Linked DNA regions of Homo sapiens: region 2 is linked to region 1. The links come from fine-mapping of genetic effects on gene expression. Tissue or cell type: skeletal muscle. Region 1 holds a variant in brackets; the other region holds the start of a gene. All regions are shown on one strand. Distances are between the middles of the regions. Region 1 overlaps IMMP2L (inner mitochondrial membrane peptidase subunit 2). Region 2 holds the start of LRRN3 (leucine rich repeat neuronal 3).

What was found. PIP is the estimated chance that this variant, and not a neighbour inherited with it, causes the effect.
Region 2: it holds the start of LRRN3, and the variant in region 1 is fine-mapped to the expression of LRRN3 in skeletal muscle (GTEx, PIP 0.99).

What each region holds. Positions count from the first base shown.
Region 1 is chr7:111,143,154-111,148,548 of GRCh38, forward strand. The region is part of intron 3 of IMMP2L (inner mitochondrial membrane peptidase subunit 2); the gene reads right to left. Among named protein-coding and RNA genes, the nearest start is that of LRRN3, 55 kb to the left of the region's middle. The variant G/C (reference allele first, on the strand shown) is at 2,470.
Region 2 is chr7:111,088,508-111,093,902 of GRCh38, forward strand. It overlaps LRRN3 (leucine rich repeat neuronal 3), which reads left to right and starts at 2,620. Exons shown (of 3, transcript NM_001099658.2): 1 at 2,620-2,997. The region is part of intron 3 of IMMP2L (inner mitochondrial membrane peptidase subunit 2); the gene reads right to left.

The DNA of each region.
Region 1 (5,395 bases):
CTGCCATTTTATTACACAATGAGAAGAAAACAAAAGCATGGATTTCAAAAAGAGGTGACAGATAATTATGATACTGTATAAATATTAAATGCAATTGTGATGTTATAACTACTAAGAAGTAATTTAATTTTCTGAATACATATCTGAGGAATCCTACCCCCAACCCCCAACCTCTGCGCCAGGCTAAATAAGCGAGGTAAACACTCATGACACAAGGCTATGCAGCATTCACACTTGAGGTCAAAAATTCCAAAAATAAATCCATAACAACAGGTGTTATCCTAAAAGCACTGAGATGTTCCCCGTGAAAGACCAACAATTTTGGATTTTTAAGAAAATAAAGTAGAAATGCTCTATCCAAACACATTTTTTAAAACTCACCTTGGGTCATTTCACAAATATTTATTTCTTAGCAATCCATTTTCCTTTGCTTATAAATTCCTGTTTCACTGATTTCAAATGAAAGAATTCTTTTACAGGCACCTCTTACTAAAGCCAAGAAATGGAATAATACCTTTAAAAAAGATAACTGTAACTGTGGAAAGGCACAGAAAGTAAATATAAACCACAGTCAGTGACTGATCCTCCATGAGGGCCATATGAATCTCAGGATATTTATTGTGCTATCTACGTGAGAAAATGCATTCTCATTTTAAATAATAACACTAGTAATCTCTTTGTCCATTAGAAATAAACCAGTGCAGATACTGTATATTCAAAGTAGCCCATATGCACTAATCAATCATCTAACCAAAGCTTTAAAATGGTTAGTTTTCTATTTCCCTTATTCATTCATTACCCTACCCTGTTTGGAAAACTTTAAAAAATTATTATTTCCATCTCAGTGTCACAGATACACTGCAACATTGTCAAATAAAATGATTGTTTCTGGACTAACAAAATCTCTATTTTTCTTACAAGGCAAACCCATCATGTTGTGACAAAACCTACTACATTTACTAGAGAAAAGAAGAGCCAAAACTATGAGCACAAATAATACTTCTCTATGTCTCCCCAGTATTTGACATTAGTAACATAATGTGCCAGAGTTTCCCTGAATAACTGCAAGTTCCTCTTCCTACAATACTTCTGTAAATACACAATATGGCCACATTCAATTTAAACTTCCAGTTAGACAATATCTAGTCAATGTCTACCTCACAGGAATAGTCGTAAATTCTAGGAACATAGCAGTGAGCAAGATAGATCATAATTTCTGCCCTTGTGGATCTTAGAGTTCGAAAGTCACATAAGCTGGGAGTCACATATATTTGGAGAGTTTAAGGGAGAAATTATACCTTCCATAGAGAAGCTGATCATAATGCTCATTGGTACAGTAGCTCAAATACAGTGTGTCTATCTCAGAAGTGACAGGATCATCCTTTGTGTTCCTACAGTTTTCACTTCTTTTTCCCCTTTCTTACTATCCAAAATACTTACGCTTATTTAAGAGTTGCTGAGTTAAAACATATTAAATCCACGGGGGACAGAAATTCTAGGAGACTGGCCATATAAAAAACAGTAGACAAGAAATAAGTGAATGGATTACAATGAAAGAGATACCTCCCACAAGCAAATGAGGATTCTTGAGCATTTATTCAATAGATGTTTCTTAACTATTTATGTGCCAGTACTGAGTAAACAATGTCGAGCAACACACAGGCCCTAATGTTACTAACAGTCTTGCAAAGGAGAAAGACATTAAGCAAATGATCATTAAATATATAAATACAAACTGTGATAAATGTTATGAAAGCAAAACATGAATATTGTCTTAAAGGGGCCTGATCTGAACTGTAGGTTCAGGGAGGATTTCTCTGAGAAGATATTGTCTAACCTGGGAGAGTTGAGCTAAATAGGTGCAAAGAAGGAGGAAGAACCTTCAGGGTAGAAATGTGCATATGTTGTGTAGAGTTTGGGAAAAGCAAGGTAGGATCTACAACAAAAGAATATGTCTAGGTACAGTGTGGCTGGAGGAGAGGAAACTAGAGAATATGCTGAGAAATACAACTGAAGACATATACTCATGCAAGTATATGAAATATACTAAGGATTTGGATCTTCATCTAGCAAGAAGCAGCTTTGTGAACATATGCACATAAGTCAAAAGGGAATATGTGTAGTTGCCTCTGTAGAGAGGAACCATGGCTGGAGGACAGAAGCAGGAAGGAGACTTACTTGTCACTGTATAGGCTGTTGTGCCTTTTCAATTTTATCTTTGTATGTCTATTACCTATTTAAATGAAAACAATGTCATCTAGATATTTAACTCACTGGCTCTATTAGGAAGAATTAATTATCGGAGACCAAACAAAAGGCCATTGCTCTGGTCTGGGTAGGCCAAGCAGCAGCAGAGATAGTAAGAAGTTCAGAATGATAATGGATTTGATAATAAAATCAACAATTTGTTCCAATGGACTGCCAAGTAAGTAAGAAGATACAATAGGAACAGCATGTACCCTAGATGAG[G/C]CATTAGGTGAACTCTTCCCACTTGCTCTCAAGTGTCAACTGAGCATCGCGTCAGGGTGAATGCTGAGTCTGGTGGTTGCAAAGACTTAAGTAATACTAAGGGACTATTAGAATCATGAGCCACTTCTTACTAAGAAGCACAATTCTATGAAGCAAAAACTTGGGAGAAAAACAATGTGTATAACTCAGAGCAGTTAAAAATAAATAAACAAATAAAAACACTATTCCAAAGGATGCATTTGGCAAATTGTGCTGTTAAAGGCAAATGCTAAAAGTCAGCTATTCTCTGGATATGTTGGCTCCATTCATCATTCAACGCCCATTCAGAGTAATTATTGAAAAGTATGGAAGCTAGAATGCACATATACTGACTTAGGAGAGATTAAAGGAATACCAACAAAAACTAAATTTTGTCTGAAGGTTAAAAATGAATTCAGAGGAATATAAAAATAAGTGAAGAGAAGTTGTAATGTAATATACCCACAAATGAGTGCAATAGCTAAAATATCTTTCAGGGAACTACAAATGCTAATTAAAAACTTATAATTCAAAATAGATGGATCTGTGCTGTTCTTGTCAATATAACATGGTTTTTTATGAGGAAGGAAAGAGGTGGGGGAGGGAGGGGAGGAAAGGGAGGAAGGGAGGGAGGGAGGGAAGATTATCTTGTTTCTCTGATTTCTTGCTAGCTTTAAAAAGAGCTAAATATTATTTTTCTTTTAATATTAAATTCCCTTTCACTTATCTGGATCAAGAATGTCTTCTCAAATCCTCTCTCTAATCCAAGAAAAACACTAAAGAAAAATAAGCATACTTATAGGGAGTACAGAAATTGCCACTAGAACCCAAATGACAGCCTGTTTGTTTAGCTTAGAACCAGACCTCAAAAACTAATAGGAGAACAGTCAAACATCTTAGAAGTGCATTTCCAGCAGCCTAGGCAGAGTTAATATTAAATGTTGCACAGAAAGCAAGAGCCCCTACATCCTGCTCTATCATCTAAATTGTAAACTCCACGAGGGCAAGAACCAAGTCTGCTCTATGCCCCGGGTCAACACAGTAACAGGAATGTAAAAAGATGTTAAAAAAATATTTATTAAGTTAATGGATGAAAAAGGGAATTAAGAAAGAAACGTTTTGAAAAAAACAAATCGATATTGTTCTATCTGCAATTGAATTAGATGTGTTCTGGAGGCAGAAGCCTTAACTGGGTGCCAGAGGTAACACTGAGTTCGACAGATGCTGCTACTACTAAATGTATCCTCCATCTCCTAACATTTCTTTCATTGGCTCCATCTTTGTGTCATACGTTTCTTGGCTAAGGTCTTGGCTTTATATTCAAAATAATTAATTTGTTCTTCCTGTGGCTCCATTTTATTTCAGAGCTCTTCTATTTAGTTTTCTACTTTCACATTCACACTTTAATTTTAAAAGCTATTTCTTATTATCTGTTCCTTTTTCTTAGATGCTAATCTTGTTTTAGAGACTCAATATTCTCTCAAATTATTTGGAAGAATTTATAATTTCTATAAGTTTTCCATTATTCCCTAACTAAATTTTGTTTCCTCTCAGGTCAGGGGGCTGTTGTTGCTGCCGTTGTTGTTGCTGTTGTTGTTGTTGTTTTAAATTCAGTCCTATACATTCACTGTTTTGAATCTTCCTCAAATATCTTGTGATTGATGGTTCACATAAATCAATAAGAAATTGGTTTAATTAATATAAAGGTCTTGCATGGGACTTTTCTGAAATTCTTTATCTTTCCCAACGGTTTCCCTCCAAAATGAGAGCATTGACTGAAAGTTGTCTGTAGGCAACAGAGACTTGTAAACTGGAAGGGTTACATCAACATGCATGGAAAAATATGAGAACACCTGTTGGCAATATCTCTAAGCAGCCACATAAAAAGTGATTTATCCAGTAGGTCACTTTAGTGCACTCTTCTCTGAGACATAGCTCCTTTCTCCTCTCATTACTTTTCCACCATGGAGATTCAGACTCCTTAGGCTGAGTCCTCTGCTTCACTCTGGGCCTGAAAGCACATTAGTGGCTCTAGCCCTCCATAGACAGACTGTTTTAATTTTAGTGGTTGCGAGGCAGGAGCGACCACTTCTGGAATGGTAAAGTAAGGACCTCCAAAAATCTACTCCTCCATAAAAGCAACCAAAACACAAACAATTGTCAAAATAAACTTTTTCAGAATTCCAAAAGTTAAACAAATGCTTGCAATGTTCCAAGAAGAATTTATTCAAGAAAAATAGCTGAATCTTGCTAAGAACAGTGAGCTTTCTATGCTTTTAAATTGCTGCTTTGGGAAACAGTTTGGTAGTTCCTGAAAATGTTAAAAATACAGTTACCATATGACCCAGCATTTCAACTCCTAGGTATACACCCCAAGAGTACCGAAAACATATGTCTATGCTAAACCCTCTACACCAGTGTTCATAGTAACATTATTCATATCAGGCAAAAAATAGAAGCAGCCCAAGTTTTCATCATCTGTTGAATGGATAATAAAACGTGGTACATCTATACAATGGAATTTTATTTGGCAATAAAAATAAATGAAGTTCTGATACATGCTAAAATATTGTGGAATCTTGAAAACATTATGCTAACTGAAAGAATCCACTCACAATAAGTTAAATATTGTATGATTCCAATTACATGAAATAGTGAAAACAGGCAAATCTATAGAAACAGAAAGTAGAAGTAGACAGTGCTTGCTAGCCCTAGGGTAGAGGAAGGAATAGGGAATGATTGCTAGAGTGTGTGCGTTTCTTTTGGGGATAAGGACAAATGTTCTGAAATTCCATAGTGGTAATAATGTACAACTCTGTAAATATATTAACATTCATGGAATTACGTACATTAAAAGTGTGAAACCTACAGTATATGAATTATATCTCAATAAAGTTGTTGTAAAAAC
Region 2 (5,395 bases), 55 kb before region 1:
AAGAAGGAAAAGAAGAATTAGCAGAGACCTGTCAATCATCCAGTAGATGATAGGGTAATATGGTGGAAAAAACCTGGAATACCTGAGGGGCTCTATCCTGGCTTTAATGTGCCAACTGTGTGCTAAGATTCCATGGTTCTCATTTGATGATCACTCACAATTGTATTAATTCAAAAACCCTAAAATCCTTACTGTATTACAATGTAACGTCTTCATATGGTACTTCATTATATAGATGTGATACCAAAATAATTTTTTCATGTATCTTTGGAGAGAGCCACATTTCATATTTACAGTTAAGGACTGAACGCCCTGATAAGTGAAAAAACACCCAAAACACACACTGATTCCATAAAGCTGCTGATGCTCTTGGAACAAGATAGAAATTCCAGTCAAAGAACAGAATCGCCATCCTTTTCATCCAAAGCCAGAGTCATTTTCTCTTTCACATTAAAATCTCATTTCTAGTGCTCCATGATATTAAATTTATAAAAATGAGTATAAAATATTTTAAATTTATCATGTACCTACATTAAAAGGACAATTGCAGGAAGAGCACTCTGATCTCCCACTTTCAAAAGAGTGATCATTTAGTTAAAACAACTTCCTATGAAATAATGTAAGATAACATATAAATGGCTACCTTTAACAATTCTAACTGAATCAAAACTGAAAAGATTTTTTCTTGATTTCTGAAACAGACTGAAATTTAAGATATTAGGTATGACTGCAGTTTCATTTAAAAACCAAGAGAGGAGTTTAATCATGTATCTGACTATCACAACTTACCTTCATTATGGGAGTGCATTATAATTGGTTTGATTACTGGACTTGTCAATTATACAGTCAATACCAATCAATGAAAATTAATCACTTAAGATACCATGGCATAAATAAAAATTCTCTTTTTACAAATAATTATCACAATTTTAAGATTATTCTTCCATATGTGGAAATAAATCCTGCAGATACTGAAATAATTTGGAATATTAAAGAAACTAAGATTTGCTAGATTAAAATTAAGGGGTAAGAAGGATGATTATTACTATTATTAAAAGTACATTAAATTATATGTAAATATACTCTAACACAACATCCCAACACTCAACCATGATCCCTAACATACAGAACTGACTCAGTGCTTTCTGAGTAAATACTAGAGTATCCAGTAAATAATAAAACCTTACAATAATATTCTGAAATAAGTATTAGGTTAAATGAGATGCTACTTTTATCTTGAACTTATTTTGATTCATTTGAATAAATTCTTATAGAAAAAAACATTTGGGAACTGTTTCTAGAAAACTACAGAGTGAAAATATTCAGTATTTAAAGACAAGCCTACTGTTTAAAATTTTTCCTGGTATTATTATTATTATAATAACTGCAAACTATTGTTCTATGTCATGTCAATAAGCACTTAAGGAGCAATTAGATGTGAAGGTTTTGTTTTTTTTTTCCTAAGTAAATCTAATAAGTGCCATTTCTCTTTACTCCACTAGAGGGTAGTCTCTCAAAACTGGGGTTGGAGTCATGACTAGCCTGCTTTTGACCTGTTGATATATTAATCCTCATGTTCCATTCTCCTCAACAAGATGTTTCTCTAGTATACTAATTAAGGTTGTAAAACATGCATTTTTAAAACTGCTTTTTGATTTTTCATGTATGTTCTTTCAGAAATATGCACTGCTATGTGTTTCTGTGTTTTCCAAATTTCTGGTAATTAATAAAAATGTTTTACATGTATGGCTTATATAGTATATTTTCCTGGGAAATATCCTTTCAGAGTTAATAGGCCTAAGAATAAAGATAGTCTTTTAAATAATTTAACTTATTACAATCGAAATATTTCCCCAGAGTGGTAAAAAATACATCCTAAATACACACACACACTCACAGATACACAAACACACCTACACATGTACCCATTCATATGTAGCTCCTAGATTTATTACATCATATAAAGAGAAGTCAGTGAGTATAATTAGAAATACATATTTTTAAAAAGTACCCCCTCAAATGCCAATGTTGTGAATTACAGAGAGGCAAATATATGCTTTATTTTAAAAATCTGGTCAATCCAGACAAGAAATGTCATTGCTAAAAAAAAAAAAAAAAAAGTGTTATTGAACACCAAGCACATATGCTAAATTAAGTAGGATCTATAGAGAACCAAATGCCACTCAAAACAGTTGCAAGCTTCTCTTCTTAAATAATGCAGTCATTGCTGAACTTCAGAGACGGAGTTGGAGGTTTGAGTCTCTACCAGGTGTTTTTAATATTTAGGAAATCCTTATCAGTAGTGTGTCCTCTCTATTTGCAGACTGAAAACATATTTCTCTGAATGACTGATAACCTAAAATTGAGAAAACTTGTCAAAAATTCCCAACATTCCCTCAGAAAGGAAAAAAAAGAAGGAAAATGATACCTAGGAAAACATGCAAGCCTGTTTCATTTATTTGTATCCTAAGCAGCAGTGTCATAGAACAGACAGTTTGTTTCAGCCAACCAGACTGGAGCAGCTGCGAGTGCTACATCTTGGCTGTCTGAAGCGATTGGCTCCTCTCTGGGGAGTGGAGGGTGTTCAGTTATTAATGACCGCTGAGCAGGCAGCACCATGTCAGTGTGACAACTGATCGGGTGAACGATGCACCACTAACCACCATGGAAACAAGGAAAAATAAAGCCAGCTCACAGGATCTCTCTTCACTGGATTGAGAGCCTCAGCCTGCCGACTGAGAAAAAGAGTTCCAGGAAAAAGAAGGAATCCCGGCTGCAGCCTCCTGCCTTCCTTTATATTTTAAAATAGAGAGATAAGATTGCGTGCATGTGTGCATATCTATAGTATATATTTTGTACACTTTGTTACACAGACACACAAATGCACCTATTTATACCGGGCAAGAACACAACCATGTGATTATCTCAACCAAGGAACTGAGGAATCCAGCACGCAAGGACATCGGAGGTGGGCTAGCACTGAAACTGCTTTTCAAGGTAAGTTTAAAATACACATATATTTTAAAATACGTTCTATTTCTTGTCTCTTCGATGATCATGTTTTTACACCTAAATCCTCCTTTGATGTCTTCTTCTTGTCTGAATTCTAAGAGCATTTTTCTTTTATTGCACTTTTGAGAAGAAATTCACATGCAAAACCCAGCTGGCTCTGTGTGTGCCTAGCTGTGTTTGTGAGATTCTCCAACATGCATTTTACTAGCTTGAATGCCCATTAGAGGATGTGAGTGGGAGAGAAAAAGCAGTGTTGGGGGGAGGAGAAAAAGGAGGGAGACAGAAGAGAAGGGAACAGTGGGGGAGAAGAGAGGAGGAGAGGGAGAGAGAAGGAGATGGGGAAGAGAGAAGACAGAGAGGAGACAGAGAGGAGAGGAGAGTCACGGGTGATGGGGTGCAATTTTCCTTTTTCTTCACATTATTTGTAGTGAAAAGCAGATCACACATTATTCTCTGTTTTGAAATCAACCCACCAAATGGGGCATTTTTATTTTGTCTCATCCAGTGGATGCAAATTAAGGCAAATGCTGTTGTATGTTAAGAGCTAAACCACTAAGCAGAGTAGCAGAATGAGCATATCACAAACAGTTATTGAATTTCTGCCAGGCTACATCTTACGGACTGGGGTAAATGACTTCCCTTTAATAACATCCCCTCGCTGGTCTGAAGGGACAGTGCAAATGTCTGATTGCTAATGCAGCTGGAACTGCCACACACTAGGTGAAAGGATCCCATGAACCAGAAGAGTTCTAATCTTTGGTAATTAACAGGATCACAGCAGGATGGCTTTAAAGTACATTTCCTATTTAAGAAAATTGTTTGTTCTAACCAACTGCTATATTCCCTTTGCTGTTGTTGAGCTGGATGGCTTAATTCGGCTCTAATTTATTCATTTTTAACAATATGTCCTTGTTTCTCTGCCTCTAATTTCAGTGAAAGCAGGCTATGAATATGAGTAGAACCGTCCTAATTTAGTGAAAAGGGGATAATGTGAAAACAAAAATAGAAGTAAAGGTTCAAAATATCTACCTAGAAAATAGTGTGCTCTGGTACCATAAATATTACTGATATATTTCTCATCTTTAGTTTCAGAAGCAATGCCTTTGAGACAGAATTACTCTCAGTAAACTCTATGAGCATCCATGTATTGATGATTCATGGAATTCAGTGTGGGTTAATTTTTACTTCCAATCTTGTAAAGGGAAGCCAGCTACTTAGAATATGCTTTCAAACAGACAACACCAATTGAGGATATTCATGGAAACATTCACTGCCCTCTTTACTGGGTCCTGGAAAGACAGTAAAAGAAACCTAGCATTTGTATTTCATCTTCTGGAGCTCTCTCCTGCCTTCTTTTAGTTCAACTAACCACACAGTTAACAGAGTCAGCTTCTTTGAAACTGTGGGTTATTTTTTTCCACAACTGTGATTTCAGAGCTATTATTGGTTTCCTAGTTTGTAATATAAGCCAAAGCAAAAAGACAATAACCAGCCACTTAGATCCTGCCACTTTCCCATAAATGTGTCAAAAAAATGAGTCAGTTTACAACATGTAATATAAGAAGTCAATTAATTCCAGTGACCTTTGTAAATGATGACAATAAAGCAGCTCTGACAATATGCCAGTGGCTTCGATTTTCTCTCTGTAAGATGAACAAGTTTAAGAAGAGGGTTCCTGCTCAGAGAAAAATGAAAGGTGCTGAAGCATCAGCTTGCAATATTGGCAGCTTTGCTCGCTCTGCCTCAAATGCCACATGCAATCTATAAAAAAAACCAAAATGATTTATTACAAAAAGGAAAAAGTGTTTTATTTGCTTTTCTGCTATTTATTAAAAGTGCTGCTTTTGAAACAGACCAGATCTGATATTTTGAGGTACCTCCTAAGTTCCTAACCAAGAGGAAAAGACTTGAAGTAGATACTCAACCCTCTGATTTCAAACTCCTATATAATGTAGCATTGCAGTATTTAATTCAGTTTTTCTTAGACCTTTTCCAGGGAAAGTTTGCATGCCAGACACACATTCTTAAATCTAACCCGCCTTATTTTAAAATTGCAATAGATGACACCTAAGAACAGTGGATTCACTCTTTAACCTTAGTAAAGCTCACATACATATTTTGTGGATTACAGAGATCAGTAATGTGCCCACTTCAGTCTGAGAAATACCAACACTCCAGGCCCCCGGTGTTGCCACTCAGTGTGTGCCAGTGAGTTTGGTGATTTGATCAGCACCTACGAATGCCAGATGATGGACATTTGTGTATGACTGGAAGATTTACCCATAGTCTCCCCAAATCATGTAACTATACCAGAAATAGCACCTTCCTGGCAAGACAATTCAAAGGACCATTTTTTTCAGGGTGTCGCTTGTCACAGGCAACA